Linked DNA regions of Homo sapiens. The protein of the gene in region 3 purifies or fractionates together with the protein of the main gene of each other region. This does not show direct contact. Each region holds a gene or a part of one and is shown on either strand. Other genes may lie near its edges.

Region 1 (3,500 bases), on a different chromosome or scaffold from region 3:
GTAAGTTACTGAGGAAGAGACTTGTCCAAATCTGTATGTGCAGAGCAATTTACATGATTTGAGCCCTATTACTTAAATCACTACACAGTATGGCCTGGAAATCTGCAAACGCTTCCAGTTAAAGCAGCTGTTTTTTGTGCCTTTCATGGTGCCTCCAACAATGGCCCCCCAAAGTCAAATAATATTGGGCTAATGGAAAAAATAGTGAATTAACTAGGTTTCCTATTTATATAAAAATTTTGAAAACAGTCCTTGCATTAGATTTATATCAATTATATGTATATCAATTACATGCAGGAGAAGCAACACACCTAAGGTACGCATGCAGTTAAAACCAAATAGAGATAATTGACATCTTCTCCCTCAAGACAACATGAAATTCATCAATACCTGTCATGCAGCTGGTATCTTTCCCGAACTTCTTCCAAAATGATTCTCTTTGGTCCCTCTCCTCCAATTATGAAATTTAAATCTGGATATTTCTGACAGAGTTCAGGTATTATACCACTAAGCAAATCGATCCCTGAAAATATAAAGTTGAATGTTGGAGATATTAATATTTAAACTTAAAAAAATTCACCAGAACGACTGAGAATCCACTTATTTTGAAAAGTATTAGCTATGCACTCCATAAAGGAGAGAAACTCTCTTAAACCTTTTCCAGGAGTGGAATTGTTTGCAAACTGGCAGTGGTCCCCCAAGAGTTACAATTCTTGAAGACGTAGACCTTGACATGCATTACCTTCCACACACCCAAAATATGGACTATTCTGTTTCATCTCAACAGACTATTCTTTAAGTTATTCACTTGTGTTTATACATTGCGTACTTCTAAAAAAGGTATATTTAAGGTGGCTAAGGTTTGAGTTCGTTTTCTCCAGAGCAGGCAGCTGATTGGAGATCTGGGTCTTTTCCCAGCTTTTTTAACCAGCAAGCCCATTGATCGTGGGGAAGTTTCAAGATCTATAAAATAAAGATACCTATGTACCTAAAGTCTCTTTCAGCTATAAAATTCTATCAGTCTGTGATCCCACTTACTGCCACAGGAAAAGGCTAAGCAACGAAATCTAACTGCTGCCTCCACTTTGTTTAAAATGTGGCTGGTACAGAGAATTTTGCAGTGAACACTACATTATCGCAAAATTTAAGTTCAAACCAGCTATAGCCCACTTTCCTGGAATGAGGGTAAATGAAGGCAGCAGGGCATCAACTGTTAGATCACTACAGTCCATAGAACAAAAGGATGCATCTTGGCTCCTTTTTTCTCCAAAATGATTTTCTTATAATATATAAACACAATCTCAGGTAATAGAAAACAATAAAGTAAATTATGCCCTATTAGTCTGAAAAAGTGAGTGGCTATCCAAAGTCCCAACAATGTCAACACTATTTAAGAATCTAGTTCATTAACAATTACAAAACGTACATATTCAAAAGTAAGAGTAGGCAGGGCGCGGTGGCTCACGCCTGTAATCCCAGTAATCCCAGCATTTCGGGAGGCCAAGGCAGGCGGATCACAAGGTCAGGAAATTGAGACCATCCTGGCTAACATGGTGAAACCCCGTCTCTACTAAAAATACAAAAAATTAGCCGGGCGTAGTGGCGGGCGCCTGTAGTCCCAGCTACTCCGGAGGCTGAGGCAGGAGAATGGCGTGAACCCGGGAGGCGGAGTTTGCAGTGAGCCGAGATTGCGCCACTGCACTCCAGCCTGGGAGACAGAGCGAGACTCCGTCTCAAAAAAAAAAAAACAAAAAAAAAGTAAAAGTAAATATAAAATAATCCACCTAGAGCTAAGTTTATTAATTTTAAAAATGCACACACACATAAGAATTGTATTTCTTAATCTTCCACCCCAAATAGGCAGATCAGTTATAAAATAGATGATATTTTATATCAGATATAAAATAGGAGAAATGACATATATATTATAGGGTCATTTTTATTAAATAATACAAAGTAGAATTCATTAAGTAAACTCTGCTAGTACTTTCAAACTGTTATTGTATGTATCAAAAATTCCCACGCAGCTTTTCTGAATATGAAGGCTTCTCATTAAAATCATAGCTATCTTTGTTTCATGTCTACTAACAAATCACTCAATTGGATTTCTAGATAAACCAGAAGGTAGTTTAATGACTTTTAACATTTAGTCTCCTACAATTCCTTCAATCCATTTTCTTCCTCACCCTTTTCTTTCTCGTACAAGGTTAAGAGCCCATTCTTCAAACAAACAAAAAACAACATAGAGCAATAGTCATAAATGATAATAGCTAACAGTAACAGAGTGCTTGCTATGACAGGCAATATACTTTAAATTCATTATGTCATTTAATCCTGACAAGTATCTCATAAGAAATGGAACTGATTACTATTACCAATGATCTATATTCTTATTCTAAGAATAAGGGCTTTTCCCCACCACTATAAAAAAATTTATTCTGGAGCCTCTAAGAAGGGTATAATGCAATGGAACCTAGAGACTTTCGACTGCCATGTGAACACAAAACAGACAATGAAAATCTCTGATCCAAACTGCTTTTAAAGCTCAGTCTAACAATATTTTTAAGAACCTTCTGATCTACACCTAGGATATGAGTGGCTGGGCATGGGTGGAGGAAGAGGAGAACTTAGCTCCAGAAAAGCTGAACTCGTGTGTCATCTCTGTTACTTACTGTGTAACCTGGGTGAGTTACTTACCCTCTCTGAGACTCAATTTCATGTAGATAACATCTACCCTACAGTTGTTGGGAGGGTCAAATGAGGTATTGTACCACGAACAGGCTTTATCAACTGCAGAATACAAATGTAGGTTGTCATTACCACTACAGAAGGAAGCAGGTGAGCGTGCCTACACATGCAGAGTGCTGGTAAATCCTGACTGAGAGCAAAACAGGCTTGGAAGAGGAGGCTCAGGAAAAAGACATCCAAAAAGCCTGGATAAGGAAAACTTTGATTTATCCTCTCTCTCACTTAAGACATTCCAGTGGGACTTTGATATCTGGTCCAATAAACTCCTGAGGAAATTAATTTGTTAATAAGGAATGGACCATTAATACAACTACTCACTTTTGGGCTACAGGCATGGCTGTTCCTTTTCAGAATGTTACTTTCTGCAGGGTGCCTGGCATCTGGAGAGGGTTCGATAAATAACTGTTCAATTACTGAATTGAGTACAGGAAAGGCCATACCATCACTCCATTGGTGGTTAGCTCAGCTAGTTAAAATACCACATTAGGGAAGTAAAGGTAACAGGTTTAATCTTTGCATGGGTAGTTAATTTTGCTGATCCTTGATCACACTTGTGTCATACTCTTTCTCAGCTAGCCATCTCAAGAAGATATGCTATTTGGTTAAAAAATAAATTAGGTACAATTCCTAAGTTACAAAAAAACACATCACTAATGTCCCAGGAGGAATTCAGAATACAGAATGCCAGTCGGTTCACATGTTCCTGATTAAAGAATGAAAGCATGTCATTGCCTTCAAACCAGAAAATGAAG
Region 2 (3,500 bases), on a different chromosome or scaffold from region 3:
ACTGCACTCCAGCCTGGGTGACAGAGCGAGACTCTGTCTCACCAAAAACAAAAAAACCATGCTGAGTGAAGAAAGCCAAAATGCCGTTCACAAGAGAATATGTACCATGTGCTTCCACCCCATTTATATGAAATTCTAGAACAGGCAGAACTGTAAAAGAGTACATCATGTTGCCTGGGCTGGGAGAGGGGAGATTTCCAGGTGATGAAAATATTCTTTACTTTGATTGACGTGGTGGTGAAGGGGGTATGTTCATTTGTCAAACTCATCAATTTATATACATAAAATGAATGCATTTATTGTATGTAAATTCAACCTCAATAAAGTATATTTGAAAAATTTTGCTGGGTGCGGTGGCTAACGCCTGTAATCCCAGCACTTTGGGAGGCTGAGGCAGGTGGATCACCTGAGGTCAGGAGTTCAAGACCAGCCTGGCCAACACGGTGAAACCCCGACTGTACTAAAAATGCAAAAAAATTAGCTGGGCGTGGCGGTGTGTGCCTGTAATCCCAGCTACTCAGGAGGCTGAGGCAGGAGAATCACTTGAGCCCCGGCGGAGGTTGCAGTGAGCAGAGATCACACCATTGCACTCCAGCCTGGGTGACAGAGTGAGTCTCTGTATCAAAAAAAAAAAAAATTTAAGGCCAGGCGAGGTGGTTTACACCTGTAATCCTAGCACTTTGGGAGGCCGAGGCAGGCTGATCACGTCAGCTCAGGAGTTCGAGACCAGCGTAGGCAATATGGGGAAACCCTGTCTCTATAAAAAGTTTAAAAATGGGCCAGGCGCGGTGGTTCACGCCTGTAATCCCAGCACTTTGGGAGGCCCACATGAGAAGATCACAAGGTCAGGAGTTTGAGACCAGCCTGGCGAGCATGGTGAGACCCCATCTCTACGAAAAATACAAAAAATTAGCTGGGCATGGTGGCATGCGCCTGTAGTCCCAGCTACTTGGGAGGCTGAGGCAGGAGGGCAAGGAGAATTGCTTGAACCCAGCAGGCAGAGGTTGCAATGAGCCAAGATCATGCCACTGTACTCCAGTCTGGGTGACAGAGCAAGACTCCATCTCAAAAAAAAAAAATGTTTAATAATTAGCCATGCATGGTGGTGTGTGCCTGTAACCCCAGCTACTCAGGAGGCTAAGGCAGGAGGATCATCTGAGCTCAGGAGGTGGAGGTTATAGTGAGCTGAGATTGTGCCATTGCACTCCAGCCTGGGTGACAGAGTGTGACCCTGTCTCAAAAAAAAAAAATTTTTTTTTTAAACAAGTTGCAGAGGGATTCTTAAAGTATTTTTCCATTTGTATCAAGTTGAAAACCAGGCAAAGCTAAGCATCTTTTTTAGGGTGACACGATAAAACAGTGAAGAAGTGTATGAGGACTATTGACAAGTTAAGGTTTGGGGTGCGGAGCATTCAATGAGGGATGGGCACACAAGACTTGAAAGTTAGTGGTAGGGCCGGGCGCGGTGGCTCACGCCTGTAATCCCAGCACTTTGGGAGGCCGAGGCGGGTGGATCATGAGGTCAGCAGATCGAGACCAACCTGGCTAACAAGGTGAAACCCCGTCTCTACTAAAAATACAAAAAATTAGCCAGGCGTGGTGGCGGGCGCCTGTAGTCCCAGCTACTCGGGAGGCTGAGGCAGGAGAATGGCGTGAACCCGGGAGGCGGAGCTTGCAGTGAGCTGAGATTGCGCCACTGCACTCCAGCCTGGGCGACAGAGCGAGACTCCGTCTCAAAAAAAAAAAAAAAGAAAGTTAGTGGTAATGTTCCATTGCATAAACTGGATATTGGTTATAGGTGTTCATTATTATGCTTTTTATAATTATTTAAAATGTACATCTATGTTACCTGTATTTTGTGTATCTTATGTTTCACAATGGGAGTTTGTAAAAAGTTACAACAAAAAATTTATTTCCTGGGGCTCTGGTAACCCTCTTAGGTAAGAGAGATTAATATGAAACTGAAAATAGTAGTTGCTGCTGGGTAACTGAGAGGTGCTACCTTTAGTATCTTTTTTTTTTTTTTTGGAGACGTCTCACTCTGTCACGCAGGCTGGAGTGCAGTGGCGCAATCTCGGCTCACTGCAAGCTCTGCCTCCCGGGTTCACGCCATTCTCCTGCCTCGGCCTCCCGAGTAGCTGGGACTACAGGACCCCGCCACAACGCCCGGCTAATTTTTTGTATTTTTAGTAGAGACAGGGTTTCACCGTGTTAGCCAGGATGGTCTCGATCTCCTGACCTTGTGATCCACCCACCTCGGCCTCCCAAAGTGTTGGGATTACAGGCGTGAGCCACAGCACCCGGCCCCTTTACTATCTTTAAAATTTGTATACCATGAATTTGACTTGGCTATTTTAAAAGAAATATGTGTTAATTTTTTTTTAAAGTAGCCTCTAGCTAGGTGCATACCTGTAATCCTAGCTGCTCAGAAGGCTGAGGCAAGAGAGGCTGGGCGCAGTAGCTCACACCTGTAATCCCAGCACTTTGGGAGGCCAAGGCAGGCGGATCACTTGAGGTCAGGAGTTTGAGACCAGCCTGGCCAACATGGTGAAACCCCATCTCTACTAAGAATAGAAAAATTAGCCAGACATGGTCGTACGCGCCTATAATCCCAGCTACTCTGGAGGCTGAGGCAGGAGAATTGCTTGAACCTGGGAGGCGGAGGTTGCAGTGAACTGAGATTGCGCCACTGCACTCCAGCCTGGGTGATAGAGCAAGACTCTGTCTCAAAAAAAAAAAAAAAAAATTGGAAATAATGTTGGTGCTGTATAGCTTGAAGGATTTCTGGCACAAGTTAAATGTTCTAGCTTAGAGATGTGCAGCTTGGAGAGGTTATTGGAAAACCCAATCCCGTTCTTTCCTAAATTCTTACCTCTTATCTGGTAATTTTATTAACTACATGAGCATGGTCTCTATTTCTGTTGTCTTAGTTATTCATTAACTCTGCCCCATTTTCACATTGGTGGAAAGCAGAGTGCAGGGTAAATGATTGTGTATTCTTTTTTTATGTGAACAGGACTTGAAAGAGGAGATTGATATTCGACTCTCCAGGGTTCAGGATATCAAGTATGAGCCCCAGCTCCTTGCAGATGATGATGCTAGACTACTACAACTGGAAACCCAGGGAAATCAAAGTATGTGGCAAGCTCTTGGAATGCTTCAGTGAGGAGTCCCACAAGTCCAGAATTCCTTTTCTCTCAGAGTTGTCAAAAGCTGCTGGCAAAGCCTTAGTTATTCCTGTTATTGGATATATGTTAGATGCAGAGCCCATTTATTAGCTTGCTGGAGTTTGGGGAATTTTTTTTTTCTTTTTTGAGATGGAGTTTCACTCTTGTTGCCCAGGCTGGAGTGCAATGGTGCAGTCTCAGCTCACTGCAACCTCCACCCCCTTGTTCAAGCAATTCTTCTACCTCAGCCTCCTGAGTAGCTGGGATTACAGGCATGCGCCACCACGCCTGGCTAATTTTGTGTTTTTACTAGAGACGGGGTTTCTCCATGTT
Region 3 (3,985 bases):
TATATTAAGCATAATTGTTTGACATAAAACATTACACATATACATTTCATGCTTTGTGAAGGGTTCTTGATACTAAATCAGGATCCTATTTTATGTATAGAAATTTATTGCTTGACTTCAAGAGTACATATTTGAAATGATGTAAAGACACTCCCTTAAGGGAACCTCGCAATAAGTTCCTAATCAGAAACGTATTCACAGACGCGGATTTAGTTTACATTCTTTATCAGAAACCCAAATTATTCTGAAATGGGCGATTTTCTTCCACTTCCCTGCCTGTGCTCTGGGGTAGCAGGTTGGGGATAATTGGTTTCAGAAACTTGAACTCATTTGTCCCGGAGCCTCCAGTCAGGCACACCTCATACTGGTAGCTCTGGGATAGGGTCCCGGTGCCGCTCAAGTCCACCAGATGTCGTGGAAAGGGGCCCTCAGGCACCGAGCAGCGACCCACCGGGGCCGCCCTGCTCCTCCTGCACAGCCGCACCGCCACGAACAGGAGCACCGAGAGGAGGAAGAGCGAAGACACCGAGGCCAACGCCACCACCAGGTAGACGGTGAGCGAGTTGGCCTGGTCCGGGGCCGCCTCCGGGAGCCGCAGGTAGGGCTGGGAGAAGCCGTCCACCAGGAGCACGTGCAGCGTGGCGGTGGCCGAGCGCGGAGGCTCGCCATTGTCCTTGACCAGCACCACCAGCCTCTGCTTGGCTGCGTCGCGCTCGCTCAGCAGCCTGGCGGTACGCACCTCGCCATTGTGCGCCCACACGCCGAATAGCCCGGGCTCCGTGGCCTTGAGCAGCTGGTACGACAGCCAGGCGTTCTGGCCCGAGTCGCCGTCCACCGCCACCACCTTGGTCACCAGGTAGCCCGGCTCGGCCGCCCGGGGCAACGGCTCGGTGCAGGGCGCGGAGCTGTTCTGCAGCGGGTACAGCACGAAGGGCGAGTTGTCGTTGGCGTCCAGCACCAGCACGCGCACCAGCGCCTCGCTGCTCAGCGCGGGGGAGCCGCGGTCTGTGGCGCCCACGCGGAACTCGAACGCCTGCAGGGCCTCGTAGTCCAGGGACCTGAGGGCAAACAGGTGGCCGTTGTCCGCGTTGATGGAGACCAGGGAGGCGAGGGGCAGGTGCGGGTCCTGGGACGGCAGCAGGGAGTAGATGACCTGGGCGTTGGTGCCCGAGTCTCTGTCTGTGGCGCTGACACTGCCGATGGGCAGGGCGGGGCTGTTGTTCTCACGGACAAACAGGGTGTAGGAGGTTTGGGTGAAGGCGGGAGCGTTGTCATTGACGTCGGAGACCAGCACGGTTATGTTGTGCTCGGTTTTCAGCCTGGGTGTCCCCAAGTCGGTGACGGTGATGGTGATGTTGTACTCAGTGTTCCTCTCTCGATCCAAAGGTTTCTCTGTTACCAGAGTATAGAAGTTTTCGACAGATGGCTTCAGGATGAAGGGGACATCGTCCTGGATGGAGCACACTGTCTTTCCATTGTTCCCGGAATCTCTGTCTCTAATCCTAAAAACAGCCACGACTGTCTCGGGTGAGTTTTCTGCAATTGGGCTAGTAAGTGAAGACAGGAGCAGCTCGGGTCGATTATCGTTTATATCTGTTACATCAACCACTACAGTGCATTTTCCAGAAAGCCCGCCGCCGTCTTTGGCCTGAATAGTTAATGTGTAAGTTTGAATTGCCTCATAGTCCAATTGCGCTTTAAGATGAAGACTGCCAGATGTTGGATTGATTTGAAACGTTTTGAGAATTCTTTCAGTGGCGTAAGAAAATGCATAGGCTATTTCCCCATTACTTCCGGTATCTAAATCTCTGGCTGACACGGAGACAACCATGGAACCAACGGGGCTATTTTCGGGCACCTGCACCTTGTAGAGCGACCGCACAAAATCAGGGGCGTTGTCATTTACGTCTAGAACCAGAATGCGCACGAGGGCGGTCCCTGATCTTGGAGGAGAGCCGCCGTCTAAAGCGGTGAGGGTTAAACTGAACTCTGGTATCTCTTCCCGATCCAGCACTTGATTCAGCACCAATTCGGGATAGATATTCCCCTCCCCGCTATCATGGACATTAATATGGAAATAGGCATTGGGGCTGATGGTGTAGTTACTCAGGCTGTTGGTTCCAACATCTGAATCCTGTGCACTCTCTAGGAGAAATGCCGCCCCTGGAGTGGTACTTTCTAATATTTTCAAGGAAATCTCTCTGTCTAGAAATACTGGAGCGTGATCATTGATGTCTCTGACCCATAGTTCAGCACGGAAAATCTGAAAAGGTTTTTCCAATAACAACTGGAAAGGCAGCACACAGGGCTCTCTGGGGCCACACAGTTCCTCTCGGTCCAATTTCTCATTTAGAAGTAGATCACCAGTAAGCGAACTGAGCAGTAAAATTTGCATGTTCTGGTCTGAAACAATTCTAGTTCCCCGGGCTCTCAGTTCCCCTACCCCTAACCCTAGGTCTTTTGCCAAGTTGGTAAGAAAGGTGCCTCTCTCGGTTTCCTCCGCCACAAAATACCGAAGCGGTTCGGCGCCAGCCCAAGACATTCCCAGAAATACACAAAGAAATAAGACTTGCCTTTTCTGCACAGCACGCTCCACTCTGGCCTCCATTCTTCTTTGGATCAGTCTTTCAAAATGACTTTCACTCAGCCTCCAGCGGCTCTCACAAATGGCAGCAGCGGAATCCTTTGAAATGAGCTGAATAATAGCAATGTTTGTGGGGAAGGATCCTCATTTTACCCCAATTCCTATTACCACTGTTTCCTTTCCTATGCTTTTCTCTTCAGATTGCCTCTTTGCTCTGGAATCTGTAACATCCTTTCTTTGTGAAATTATTTTTCTCTCTCTCTTTTTAGCCAGCAGCGCCACCTTGCGTTTTGTGGATGTTATTCCCGTTATCAAGACTAGAACAAAAAGATGGCGGATTGAAGGAATTCTGCAACAAGAATGATTTGTCCCCGGTATCTTTGCTGTTTCATTCCATCTTTATCCTCAAATGGTCACAGTAATGCTAGTAAGTAATAGCTGATGTCGTTTTCCCCTGTGATAATCTGGATTCGTAGAAGAATTAATTTATAGTCTTCTTAAATCTAGGAGCATGAAACTAAACTCTGACTCCCCACCGAAATCCTAAGAAAATCTCCTATTTTAAAAATGGATAGTAAAAATATATATGAGAAAATGAAACCTCCTCCTTGAAGTCAACAAATATTGGTTGGGGACATTTTATTTATTTGTAAAGTATTTAACAATAATAATGTGAATATGGCAGAATAATTGACCCTTTTCCCAATTTCTTGTGAATTAAACAATTATTCCACTTTCCAGGTCTTAACTCTTTACCTGTGATATTTCTTGGAACACTTTATGCCTCCCCCAAACCCAACCTTCATCCTTCACCTGATTTAAGTATTACATAAGAAATTATTGTTCCTCTATAATTTCAGTGACTAGAATCTCCAATGTCCAATGAATACTCTTAAAATTAGTAGTAGCAAGTTGGTCAATCTTGCATTTGTGGAAGTGCTTCTAGCATTTCATCTTCAACTATGATGGTTGATCTCAATTTGGGGTAAATATTCCTTTTTTGAATCAATAAAGTTTTCTTTTTATTCTTTCATATTTTGAAGTGATTTTTGATAGCTGTTGAAATAATACATTTATTCTTTAGTTTCTAAATTACTGAGTTATTGATATAAATGACATTTAACCATAATGTATTATTGTTTTAGTGCACAGATAGATATGATGTGTCAACATGGTTTTAGGATTTTTCTAGTTAATGTTGTTTACCTAGTGCGTGTTTGCCTTTTATGGCCTTGGTATTAAACTATTATACTGGCATCATAGAATGTGTTAGGGAGCTTTTTATCTATTTTATACAATAGTTTTAATAATTATATTATTATATGTTTCTACATGCTTAATTCCAGCTTGTCTTTTAAACTGGTTGGGTTTGGTGACTTCACTTGCAGTAGATCAGTGACT
Region 4 (2,191 bases), on a different chromosome or scaffold from region 3:
GTAGTTCACTGCCCAGCCACCGGCACACAGCGCCCCAGCCAGCACCCAGCGCAGCCAGGCATCTATAGGAAAGGGCTCGAGCTACACCGACTCTGCTGCTCCCACAGGCCGGGTCTTCTCTCTCTTTTGCTTTTTTAGAGAGAGGGTTCTTACTATGTTGCCCAGGCTGGTTTTGAACTCCTGGCCTCAGGTGACTCCCTCACTTTGGCCTCCCAAAGTGCTGGGATTACAGGTGTAAGCCACCGCGCCCGGCCTGGCTGCCTGTGTTACCCAGCCATTTCCAGCGCATACGGGCAACATGGGACCAAGAGGGCAATTCCTGCCCAATACGCTGCACTCGACTGGAGACACCTCTAACGCAACATGGGAACTTAACATTTTGTCTCTTGGGAGACAAACATAATTTAAGATTCCACAATACAGAAACAAAGAGGCCGCGTTAAGGGGTAGGTTCCTATGAAGTCGGTTTGTCACTTGAGGCGGTGAATGCTCAGCGCACACCTGTAATCCTAGCACTATGGGAGGCCGAGGCAGGAGGATCGCTTAAGCCCAGGAGTTCAAGAACACCCTGGACAACACAGCAAGACCCCATGTCTATATTAAAAAGAAAGAAAGCCATGTGGGAGAGGTACTAACCCTGAGGGAGGTCATGGACATTTCTTCGCCGTCGGAGCAGGTACCACAAGGACAGCAGGGCGTAGATGGCCAGAGCGAGGCTGCCCGAAACCCAGATCACTATGTTTCCAAGTAGGTGGATCTGAGCCTAAGGGAACATGGGAGATGCTGTTAGCCACCTGCCCTCTGCTCAGGGAGGGAAGAGAAGAGAACACAGGAAAGGAATTCAGATGCACGCACTACTTTAGCAGAGTGAAAAAACGCCAGGCACAGCCTAGCATCCACTAGGCCTTACTACTACTGTGGACAGGTCTGCTCCTACTCAGACCTTTCATTAAAAGCACTGATGCCAGCCGGGTGTGGTGGCACATGCCTGTAATCCCAGCACTTTGGGAAGCTGAGGTGGGCAGATCACCTGAAGTCAGGAGTTTGAGACCAGCCTGCCCAACGTGGCGAAACCCCGTCTCTATTAAAAAGTACAAAAATTAGCTGGGCATTGCGGTGGGCACCTGTAATACCAGCTACTTGGAGGCTGAGGCAGGAGAACTGCTTGAACCTGGGAGGTGGAGGTTGCAGTGAGCCAAGATCACGCCACTGTACTCCAGCCTGGATGACAGAGCAAGACTCCGTCTCTCTCTTTCTCTCTCACATACACACACACACACAGCACTGATGCTCTCAATTTTGTAATTGGAAACTGAAAATTGGGAGCAGATGACTCCACTTTGTAACAGCAGCGCTGTCCACGGAGGAGAATGCAAAGTGCGCTCAGAGCTCGGGGTGGGGCGGCCTCTGGGCCTGAGCCTCTGCCTTCAGTGCACATGCTGAGCCGACCTACCCGCCTCTGAGGGAGGAGGAAAAAGGTGGGCATTTCCAGCGTCTGCCCATTCAGTGAATATTTATGGGGCGCTGACTGTGCGCCCGGCCTACCAATGCTTTCACTCTGCCGGGTGGAGAGACGGCACGCACATCAGCAAAGCACCGGTAAGCTCCACCACCAGGTGCCACACGGAAAATTGAATGGGAATATCTTAAAACCACTTTCGCCAGGAAAAGGGGAACAATGTGTCTCCACAAAAGCAATCAAGCCGGGTTTCCTTCAACAGGCACACATGCCACACCCCTACTCCTGGCTCCAGGTTGCCAAAGCGTTTAGAGAAAACCAAGTCACAGGCCTTTGTCAGGAAAAGCTTGGGAGAAACCCAGCACTTTCTAGGGTGCAGCGGCTGCTCTTAATGCAAGGAATTCTCAAGAAACAGGATGAATCTATGACTGTCAGCTGTCAGCATCGCTCGCTTACGCTGGTCCTGGGGTGCAGCCAGTAGGCAATATTGGTGTCCAGGGTGACCCACTCCAGTGGGCTGGAGCTGTACTTGTGTTCCGAGTCATCACTTCTCAGCGCCAGCATCCTCCACTGGAACAAAGCAGAGGCCTCTGAGATTGAGGATGGGGGATGCCTCCCGCTGTGCGTGGATTTGGTCAAAGGAGTACACTGCTGCCCCTTGCACGTGGACTGGCCCAGCTCAAGTTCATTCGGATCATGCATCGGAGGCAGCATGATGAGAACCTGGATTCC
Region 5 (3,500 bases), on a different chromosome or scaffold from region 3:
GAATTTAACAATAGTTTTAAGAAAAGATATTACAGAAGATTTTCACTTTGATACTACATATTTTCTAACAGCTTGAATTTTTAAAGTGAGTTTGTCGCTCATTTGAAAGGGAAAAGAATATAATGTGTCACCTAGAAAATATCTGATATATATCTAGTAAAATTAGTACTGCTCATCTAAAGGTAAATAATTAACGTGCATATCACATTTTTCCCTAGTACAAATACAGGAAGTGTACAGTTTTATGCCAGTCTTAGCAATTTGGCAAGAGAGATTTTGAAACTACTCTGTAAAACACCTGCTAATGACCAGGTAGTTGGCTTTAAAACTTTCCAATTAAGTGTGATGTGCTCTGATGCCATGCCAAAAAAGTGTCAGTACGTCCTATGACTCTGAGGTAAGAACAAAGTCATTTAATAATACTTGTTTCCTGGTGACACTGTTCTGAGAAAACAGAGAATATCATGGGAAGAAATGTTGAGTCAGTATTTAACTTTTAAACAAGGTATTTAGTAATAAGAACTCTAACTTGAAATTTCATATATTCTTACTGAACTATTGATCTAGAGTCCCTCAGCCTGCTATATGAAATCTTAAGAGGAAAAAAAAAAGAATCAAAAAGACATACACTTCATAGGATAGAGAGAGGGATTACCCCCTCCTCCAGCATTTTTAGAAACGCCTGAGCCATATGAATCCTATATACATTTTAAGAAGGTAAGCAAAATAATGAAGTGGTTAATATTGATTTCAGCATGTTAGTTTTAGTTATGTTTACGGTAACAAAGTTGTATACTTCTGTTTGTGTTTATTTTTCAACCTAAAGTCTAAGGACCCTAAAAAAGCTTCAAGGGAACTATGAACTTAAATGAAATATTTTTATGCAGAAAATTTGTTTTCTGCAGAAATTTTCTGCAGGTTTCCAAAGGACAGGACCCTCAAAGACTTAAAAGTACTTTCAATGTACACATATATAGCTTCTTTTTTGGTAAACATTGTAACTGTTGAGGGGGGTGTATTTTTAGGGTTTTTTTTTAAAGTTTAGAGCAGGGATCAGTGAATCTTTTCTGTAAAAGGCCAGATAGTATTTGTGGGTACATAAGGTCTGTCACTACCACCACCACTACCACCACCACCACTGTCACCACCATTACCACCACCACCACCACCACCAGTACTTCTTTTAACAACGTCAAATATAAAGTTTAAGAATGTAAAAACCATTCTTAATGCAGGGGCCTAACAGCAGCTAGTTTGCAGACCCCTGATTTAGAGTAACAGTTGGTTTATCTCTGAAGAAATAATAGAGCATGAGCTCTGGAAGTCCAGGACCTTTTACATTTAGGACTTTATATCACTAATCCTCCGTAAATCGCATATTTCCACATCTGTAAAACTGAGATACCAACCTCTCCCACATAGGAGTTTTAACTATTGAGATTGCAACTGCATGGAAATGCCCACACAGTGCCTAATGAATACTTAGCAAACAGTGTTTTATTAGCCCCACCCTGCTCATATGATAGATTGTTAGTAATACTTGTAAGTCAACGTTTAGTATTTGATCAGGCATGCTCCTTCAACACAATCTACTTTATAATGATCTGCTTTGGCTATTTCCAGGAAGAAACTGTGGCTTTTTGGGATAGCCAATATACTTGTACATTACTGATTTGAATTTATAGCCTCCCGGCAGGGTGTGAATCACACCTGTAATCCCAGCATTTTGGGAGGCTGAGGCGGGGGGATCACTAGAATCCAGGAGTTGGAGACCAGCCTGGCCAACATGGTGAAACCCTGTCTGTACTAAATATGTGAAAATTAGCCGGGTGTGGTGGCATACGCCTACAATCTTAGCTACTTGGGAGGCTGAGGCAGGAGAACTGCTTGAACCCGGGAGGTGGAGGTTGCAGTGAGCCAATATAGCGCCACCGCACTCCAGCCTGGGCAAGAGTGAGACTCCGTCTCAAAACAAACAAACAAACAAACAAACAAAAATTATAGCCTCCTCAAAATGACTATTCTCCCCTCAATGAATAAATCAAATTTCTAGAGCAAAGATGTAATGTATCAATACATTATTCTCCATCTAAAGTGTTTTAAAAGCTGAAATTAAAATAATTCAAAGCAGCTGGAGGAAATCCAATGTGCAAGAAGTAAAATCAGCACTAAACTGGGTATTTAGGTGGAGTACACTTAGGTGTGCTAAGAAAGCTAATGTGGTGGCTCATGCCTGTAATCCCAGCACTTTGGGAGGCCGAGGCAGACAGAGCACCTGAAGTCAGAAGTTCAAGACCAGCCTGCCCAACATGGCAAAACCCCATCTCTACTAAAAATAAAAAAATTAGCTGGGCATTGTGGCACACGCCTGTGGGAGGCTGAGGCAGGAGAACTGCTTGAACCTGGGAGGCGGAGGTTGCAGTGAGCCGAGATCATGCACCTGCACTCCAGCCTGGGCAACGAGAGAGGAAAAAAAAAAAAGCTAAGGTCACAATGCATTACATACGGTACCACAGTAATCAGGTGTTTGCCTTAGCAGAGCAGAGATATTGATCTCTCCTGTTCCAGTTTCTCACAAAACTGAAGGGCTTAAATATTTCCAATGCCACTAAAATAAGCTTTATGTGTTCTTTGTTTTCCCTAGAAAGACTAACCCTATAATAGCATGAACTAGTTTATAACCATTTTTATCACGTTTACTATACCCACCGCAACACTAGGTAGTATGCACTAAGCACTTACTGAAGATAAATGACTATTTTTTAAATGACATAATTATTCATCTCTAAGACAATGATCTTGCAATTCAACTTATACAGAGATATGACGAGATATAGAGATATGAGCAACAGTACAAGAAAAAGCACAACAGGTTAAAAATTAGCTATTACAAGATTATTCCAGCATAGCTAGAGTAATGCACAATGCCATTGTCTATTCTCCCCAAATATTAAAGGTTAGATTTCCTATCAACATTAGTAAGTAAAACTGTCACTATTATAACCATCAAGGAATTTTAGTAGCTATTTTAAAATATTTTCCAATGTAATAGAAAGGAAAAAAGTATGAAAAAGTAAATAAATACAACATATTACACTTGACTTTACAAATGATTTTGTCAGTTTTCTGTGAATTTACTTTGAAAGATTTTGAGATACGGATCACTCAATTCATTAAATTCAAATATACTGTCAATAAGTTGATGCCCCCCTTTTTGGAGATCAGTGAAGTAAATGCTTACATAGTTATTAATGACCCATTCCACTAAAGCAAACTATCCACCAAACTCGAACAAAAAGGAGACACTATCTACTTACCATCACTACATGGTAGAAAAATGGATTGCATTTCAAGGCATTTTTTTTTTTCTGGCAGAGTGACTTTTTAAAATTCAACATTATATTGACAATGTTTTTTTTTTTTTTTTTTTTTTTTGAGACAGTCTCACTCTGTTGCCCAGACTGGAATACAGTGGCGCAATCTTGGCTCACTGCAACCTC
Region 6 (3,500 bases), on a different chromosome or scaffold from region 3:
ATATCTAGCAGGCAGGTGCAACCTTGGGCCACTACTCAGACCCTCCTGTCTCCAAATTCTGTCAGTACGTACAGGACAGGCATCTTTCCTATAGAATTACAATGCACCTCAACTGCCACCGCAGTCACAAAATGTATTAATAGATGAAAACACTGAATCGCAAAGAGGTCAAGAAACTAATCAAGGTTGCCCAGGTGGTCACCAACAGGTCCAGAACTTGAAGCCAAACACCATTTCTCACCCAGGGCTCTTTGATCTTGCTTTTATAATGCAGGCCCAATTTTGATCAGGCACTGGTATTCTCTCTCAAATGCAAAATCTCATAAACTCTTACAGGTCAACAATAAAAAGACAAATAGCCAGGCACAGCGGCTTGCACCTATAGTCCCAGCTACTAGGTAGGCTGAGGTGGGAGGATTGCTTGAACCCAGGAGTTCAAGGTTACAGTGAGCTATGATCACGCCACTGCACTCCAGCCTGGGCAACAGAGTGAGACTCTCTCAATCAATCAATCAAAATGTGCAAAGGATTTGAATAGACCTTTGTCCAAAGGAAAAATACATTGGCCAATAAGCACAAGAAAAGACAGAGGCTAAATATCTGTTATGCGTTAAATTGCTGAAAACTCCCCCAAAACTCTTATGTTGAAGTTCTAACCCTGAGTACCTTAGAAGGTGCCCTTAGTTGGCTGGAGAGAGGGTCTTTACAGAGATTATCAAGTTAAAATGAGGTTGCAGGCTGGGCATGGTGGCTCAGGCCTGTAATCCCAGGACTTTGGGAGGCCGAGGCAGGCGGATCACGAGGTCAGGAGATCGGGACCATCCTGGCTAACACGGTGAAACCCCGTCTCTACTAAAAATACAAAAAATTAGCCAGGCATGGTGGTGGGTGCCTGTAGCCCCAGCTACTCGGGAGGCTGAGGCAGGAGAATGACATGAACCCAGGATGCGGAGCTTGCAGTGAGCCGAGATCCCACCACTGCACTCAGCCTGGGCGACAGAGCGAGACTCCATCTCAAAAAAATAAATAAGTAAATAAATAAATAAAATAAAATGAGGTTGCCAAGGTGTGTCCAAATCCAATATGATGGGTGTCCTTATAAAAAGGGAAAATCTAGAAACAGACATGCACACATGGAGAATACCAGGTGAAGCTGAAGGCAGAGATTGGAGTGATGCTTCTATATGTAAGGAATGCCAGAGATTGCCAGCAAAACATTGGAAGCTAGGCAAGAGGCATGGAACAGATTCTCCCTCACAGCCCTCCAAAGGAAGCAACCCTGACACCTTGATCTCAGACATTTAGCCCTAGAATCATGAGGCAAATGTCTGCTGTTCAAGCAACCCAGTTTGTGTTGCTTTGTTACAGCAGCCCTAGCAAACTAATACAACATTATTAGTAATCAGGGAAATGCAAATCAAAACCACAATGAGACCCCTTCACACCCATCGGAATGGCTATAATCAAAAAGACATAATGAGGCCGGGCACGGTGGCTCAGGCCTGTAATGCCAACACTTTGGGAGGCCAAGGTCGGCAGATCACTTGAGGCCAGGAGTTTGAGACCAGCCTGGGCATCATAGCAAAACTTCATCTCTACTAAAAATACACAAATTAGCCAGTATGCACACAGTCTTTGAAATATTAAAAAAACAACAAAAATTAACAATAAAAATTAGCCAGGCGTGGTGGTGCACATCTGTGTCCCAGCTACTTGGAGAATGAGAATTGCTTAAACCCAGGAGGTGGAGGTTTAGTAAGCCGAGATTGCATCATTGCATTCCAGCCTGGGCGACAGAGCAAGACTGTCTCAAAAAAAAAAAAAAAGAAAAAGAAAACCTAACGCTTCAGTGATAACTGCATGCCAGGTACTTTCCACATACTAACTCATTTAACTCTAACAACAACCCTATGTTTATCCCAATTTACAGATGACCAAACTGAGGCAGAGAGAGGGTCACCACCATCTCTAATTGCTCCTTACCTGTGCGAAAGGCTCTAAAAGGCAGCTTCCGTAAGGGCTGTAGGGATTGGCTCAGGGCAGTGATCTCACAGGGATGGAGGCTATAACCAAGCAAAAATGAACCATTAAATATTATTCTTAAAATTAAAATTACTGGATTAATCGGCAAAATTTAAACACTCAATAACAATATTGTAGCAATGTAAATGTCTTGGTTTTGACAACTGTACTGTAGATAAGAAAATGTCCTTGTAGGGGAAGGACTGAAATATTTATTTATTTATTAATTCATTCATTCATTCTTGAGACAGAGACTTGCTCTGTCACCCAGGCTAGAGTGCAGTGCCGCAATCTTGGCTCACTCCAACCTCTGCCTCCCGGGCTCAAGTGATTCTTCTGCCTCAGCCTCCCTAGTAGCTGGGATTACAGGCACCCGCCACCACACCTGGCTAACTTTAGTATTTTTAGTAGAGATGAGTTTTCACCATGTTGGCCAGGCTGGTCTCAAACTCCTGATCTCATGTGATCCACCAGCCTCAGCCTCCCAAAGTGCTGGGATTACAGGCATGAGCCACCAGGCCCAGCCTAGAAAAGGGCTTAAAAGCAAAAGGTCATCAAGTTGGCAAATTGCTCTCAAGTGTCTCAGGAAAAGAATGTATATGTATACACACACATATACATATAAACAGAGATGGAAGATGATAAAGCAAATAGGGCTGACATTTGAGGAATCTAGGTAAAAGGTATTTGGGAATTCTATGTACTATTTCTATAACTTTCTGTAAGCCTGAAACTATTTCCCAATAAAAAGGCTTTTTGGGTTTTTTTTGGGAGGCCGAGGCGGGCAGATCACCTGAGGTTGGGAGTTCGAGACCAGCCTGACCAACATGGAGAAACCCCATCTCTACTAAAAATACAAAATTAGCTGGGTGTGGTGGCACATGCCTGTAATCCCAGCTACTTGGGAGGCTGAGGCAGGAGAATCACTTGAACCCGGGAGGCAGAGGTTGAGATGAGCTGAGATCGTGACATTGCACTCCACCCTGGGCAACAAGAGCAAAACTCCGTCTCAAAAAAAAAGGAAAATACTATTCTGGTTCAGTTACTTTCTCTTCTTTGTTTCATCTTTGCCTGAAGAAATAAGACATATTCCCAGTGGCAATAAATGACTATGCCAGCAAGCAAAGCATTAATGAGTTTTTAGTTGAGTTTCCCCTTAATCAAAGAGGAAATATCTCACTTTCAGTTCAGATATCACTTCAGTTTCACCAAATACTGACCTGAAATCTAAAGTTAAAAAACTGTATCCGAGTCAATAAACATTTTTTTCCTTGGAACCCTTTATGATAGAATAATTCACTCTATTATAAATGTTTAAATTGATATTTTTGTGAAAAATAGAATTGCATTTATTACTTTCACACTATAATATTTACTTTCGTGGATATTTAGTTATGTCTTTTGTGTGTGTGTGTGTGTCTGTGACAGAGTCTCACTCTGTTACCCAGGCTGGAGCGGATTTTGGCTCACTGCAACCT
Region 7 (3,187 bases), on a different chromosome or scaffold from region 3:
GATTATTTTTAAATATGGAAGCACTGTTTTCATAAACTCTTAAATTGTTAGTAAAGAGGTAGCCTACATTTGTTATAAAATGTAAAGAGAAGATGAAAATGGACTTTTCTTCCAGTTTTACAGCTGTTCTCTTCCGTTGATCCCCACTGGCTCTTCTTTCATTTCAGCCTCTTGGTTCTTTCTTAAAAGAAAACCATGTCTTTTTCCCCTTAGTCCAGAGGTAGACATAGCTGAACAGAAAGCTTAGACATTCCCATTTAGTGTATTTGCTTCTTTGTGAGATTAATTTGTTTCTCTTTCTCTTTCCCTCTTCTCTAGTGTGGATTCTTTAAACGCTCTAGGTACGATGACAGTGTTCCCCGATACCATGCTGTAAGGATCCGGAAAGAAGAGCGAGAGATCAAAGATGAAAAGTATATTGATAACCTTGAAAAAAAACAGTGGATCACAAAGTGGAACGAAAATGAAAGCTACTCATAGCGGGGGCCTAAAAAAAAAAAGCTTCACAGTACCCAAACTGCTTTTTCCAACTCAGAAATTCAATTTGGATTTAAAAGCCTGCTCAATCCCTGAGGACTGATTTCAGAGTGACTACACACAGTACGAACCTACAGTTTTAACTGTGGATATTGTTACGTAGCCTAAGGCTCCTGTTTTGCACAGCCAAATTTAAAACTGTTGGAATGGATTTTTCTTTAACTGCCGTAATTTAACTTTCTGGGTTGCCTTTATTTTTGGCGTGGCTGACTTACATCATGTGTTGGGGAAGGGCCTGCCCAGTTGCACTCAGGTGACATCCTCCAGATAGTGTAGCTGAGGAGGCACCTACACTCACCTGCACTAACAGAGTGGCCGTCCTAACCTCGGGCCTGCTGCGCAGACGTCCATCACGTTAGCTGTCCCACATCACAAGACTATGCCATTGGGGTAGTTGTGTTTCAACGGAAAGTGCTGTCTTAAACTAAATGTGCAATAGAAGGTGATGTTGCCATCCTACCGTCTTTTCCTGTTTCCTAGCTGTGTGAATACCTGCTCACGTCAAATGCATACAAGTTTCATTCTCCCTTTCACTAAAACACACAGGTGCAACAGACTTGAATGCTAGTTATACTTATTTGTATATGGTATTTATTTTTTCTTTTCTTTACAAACCATTTTGTTATTGACTAACAGGCCAAAGAGTCTCCAGTTTACCCTTCAGGTTGGTTTAATCAATCAGAATTAGAGCATGGGAGGTCATCACTTTGACCTAAATTATTTACTGCAAAAAGAAAATCTTTATAAATGTACCAGAGAGAGTTGTTTTAATAACTTATCTATAAACTATAACCTCTCCTTCATGACAGCCTCCACCCCACAACCCAAAAGGTTTAAGAAATAGAATTATAACTGTAAAGATGTTTATTTCAGGCATTGGATATTTTTTACTTTAGAAGCCTGCATAATGTTTCTGGATTTCATACTGTAACATTCAGGAATTCTTGGAGAAAATGGGTTTATTCACTGAACTCTAGTGCGGTTTACTCACTGCTGCAAATACTGTATATTCAGGACTTGAAAGAAATGGTGAATGCCTATGGTGGATCCAAACTGATCCAGTATAAGACTACTGAATCTGCTACCAAAACAGTTAATCAGTGAGTCGATGTTCTATTTTTTGTTTTGTTTCCTCCCCTATCTGTATTCCCAAAAATTACTTTGGGGCTAATTTAACAAGAACTTTAAATTGTGTTTTAATTGTAAAAATGGCAGGGGGTGGAATTATTACTCTATACATTCAACAGAGACTGAATAGATATGAAAGCTGATTTTTTTTAATTACCATGCTTCACAATGTTAAGTTATATGGGGAGCAACAGCAAACAGGTGCTAATTTGTTTTGGATATAGTATAAGCAGTGTCTGTGTTTTGAAAGAATAGAACACAGTTTGTAGTGCCACTGTTGTTTTGGGGGGGCTTTTTTCTTTTCGGAAATCTTAAACCTTAAGATACTAAGGACGTTGTTTTGGTTGTACTTTGGAATTCTTAGTCACAAAATATATTTTGTTTACAAAAATTTCTGTAAAACAGGTTATAACAGTGTTTAAAGTCTCAGTTTCTTGCTTGGGGAACTTGTGTCCCTAATGTGTTTAGATTGCTAGATTGCTAAGGAGCTGATACTTTGACAGTGTTTTTAGACCTGTGTTACTAAAAAAAAGATGAATGTCCTGAAAAGGGTGTTGGGAGGGTGGTTCAACAAAGAAACAAAGATGTTATGGTGTTTAGATTTATGGTTGTTAAAAATGTCATCTCAAGTCAAGTCACTGGTCTGTTTGCATTTGATACATTTTTGTACTAACTAGCATTGTAAAATTATTTCATGATTAGAAATTACCTGTGGATATTTGTATAAAAGTGTGAAATAAATTTTTTATAAAAGTGTTCATTGTTTCGTAACACAGCATTGTATATGTGAAGCAAACTCTAAAATTATAAATGACAACCTGAATTATCTATTTCATCAAACCAAAGTTCAGTGTTTTTATTTTTGGTGTCTCATGTAATCTCAGATCAGCCAAAGATACTAGTGCCAAAGCAATGGGATTCGGGGTTTTTTTCTGTTTTCGCTCTATGTAGGTGATCCTCAAGTCTTTCATTTTCCTTCTTTATGATTAAAAGAAACCTACAGGTATTTAACAACCTACAAATTGGGAGTTGTCTTTGGACTGAATCCTCCTCTTCACTGCCTGTCCTTGTAAGGATAGGGAATTGCTTAGCAATGATAACCTGGCATTAAAAAAAATTCTGACAGCTAAGCTGCTTCCTTCTTAGAATATGTTTTGGATGTGGGAGCAGGCTAGCTGTGACGTGTGTGGCAGAATCAACTAGTCAGAAAATATTTTCTTCAGCAAAAGAAAGATTTTAGATTTGAGTTTTATGAAACTTCTCTAGCTGGATTATCACAACCTAATACAAGAAAATAAAATATATAAATATATAAATATATATAAATATAAATATATAAATATATATAAATATATATATACATATATACGTATATACACACACACACACACACACACACACACATATATATATATAAAATGCCTAGACAATATAGTGTGCCCTGGCCTGAATAAATGTCTGTCTAATATATTAGGTAATAGCTCTCCACTATACTTGGCATTACATAAAATCTTGGCCTTCT

The links.
Region 1: the proteins of PCDHB7 (region 3) and PIGA purify together in Homo sapiens (affinity purification with mass spectrometry; 2 studies listed by BioGRID and IntAct, with this or other methods). This does not show direct contact.
Region 2: the proteins of PCDHB7 (region 3) and LTAP1 purify together in Homo sapiens (affinity purification with mass spectrometry; 2 studies listed by BioGRID and IntAct, with this or other methods). This does not show direct contact.
Region 4: the proteins of PCDHB7 (region 3) and POMT1 purify together in Homo sapiens (affinity purification with mass spectrometry; 2 studies listed by BioGRID and IntAct, with this or other methods). This does not show direct contact.
Region 5: the proteins of PCDHB7 (region 3) and PDZD8 purify together in Homo sapiens (affinity purification with mass spectrometry; 2 studies listed by BioGRID and IntAct, with this or other methods). This does not show direct contact.
Region 6: the proteins of PCDHB7 (region 3) and PISD purify together in Homo sapiens (affinity purification with mass spectrometry; one large-scale study listed by BioGRID and IntAct). This does not show direct contact.
Region 7: the proteins of PCDHB7 (region 3) and ITGA6 purify together in Homo sapiens (affinity purification with mass spectrometry; one large-scale study listed by BioGRID and IntAct). This does not show direct contact.

The regions. Positions count from the first base shown.
Region 1 is NC_000023.11:15,325,524-15,329,023, forward strand, and holds part of PIGA (phosphatidylinositol N-acetylglucosaminyltransferase subunit A), read right to left. Parts: exon of another isoform or gene 2,791-3,500; coding exon of another isoform or gene 2,698-2,790; intron 524-2,697; coding exon 391-523; intron 1-390. UniProt on the Homo sapiens protein: Catalytic subunit of the glycosylphosphatidylinositol-N-acetylglucosaminyltransferase (GPI-GnT) complex that catalyzes the transfer of N-acetylglucosamine from UDP-N-acetylglucosamine to phosphatidylinositol and participates in the first step of GPI biosynthesis.
Region 2 is NC_000001.11:154,214,091-154,217,590, reverse strand, and holds part of LTAP1 (protein C1orf43), read left to right. Parts: intron 1-3,016; coding exon 3,017-3,134; intron 3,135-3,500. UniProt on the Homo sapiens protein: General regulator of phagocytosis. Required to uptake Gram negative bacterium by macrophages.
Region 3 is NC_000005.10:141,171,459-141,175,443, reverse strand, and holds the start of PCDHB7 (protocadherin beta-7 precursor), read right to left. Parts: upstream 2,801-3,985; 5' UTR 2,609-2,800; coding exon 227-2,608; 3' UTR 1-226. UniProt on the Homo sapiens protein: Potential calcium-dependent cell-adhesion protein. May be involved in the establishment and maintenance of specific neuronal connections in the brain.
Region 4 is NC_000009.12:131,519,918-131,522,108, reverse strand, and holds part of POMT1 (protein O-mannosyl-transferase 1), read right to left. Parts: intron 2,030-2,191; coding exon 1,916-2,029; intron 764-1,915; coding exon 637-763; intron 63-636; coding exon 1-62. UniProt on the Homo sapiens protein: Transfers mannosyl residues to the hydroxyl group of serine or threonine residues. Coexpression of both POMT1 and POMT2 is necessary for enzyme activity, expression of either POMT1 or POMT2 alone is insufficient.
Region 5 is NC_000010.11:117,365,441-117,368,940, forward strand, and holds part of PDZD8 (PDZ domain-containing protein 8), read right to left. Parts: intron 1-3,500. UniProt on the Homo sapiens protein: Molecular tethering protein that connects endoplasmic reticulum and mitochondria membranes. PDZD8-dependent endoplasmic reticulum-mitochondria membrane tethering is essential for endoplasmic reticulum-mitochondria Ca(2+) transfer.
Region 6 is NC_000022.11:31,648,716-31,652,215, forward strand, and holds part of PISD (phosphatidylserine decarboxylase proenzyme, mitochondrial), read right to left. Parts: intron 2,064-3,500; coding exon 1,984-2,063; intron 1-1,983. UniProt on the Homo sapiens protein: Catalyzes the formation of phosphatidylethanolamine (PtdEtn) from phosphatidylserine (PtdSer). Plays a central role in phospholipid metabolism and in the interorganelle trafficking of phosphatidylserine.
Region 7 is NC_000002.12:172,503,773-172,506,959, forward strand, and holds the end of ITGA6 (integrin alpha-6 isoform b preproprotein), read left to right. Parts: exon of another isoform or gene 1-318; coding exon of another isoform or gene 319-480; 3' UTR 481-2,687; downstream 2,688-3,187. UniProt on the Homo sapiens protein: Integrin alpha-6/beta-1 (ITGA6:ITGB1) is a receptor for laminin on platelets. Integrin alpha-6/beta-1 (ITGA6:ITGB1) is present in oocytes and is involved in sperm-egg fusion.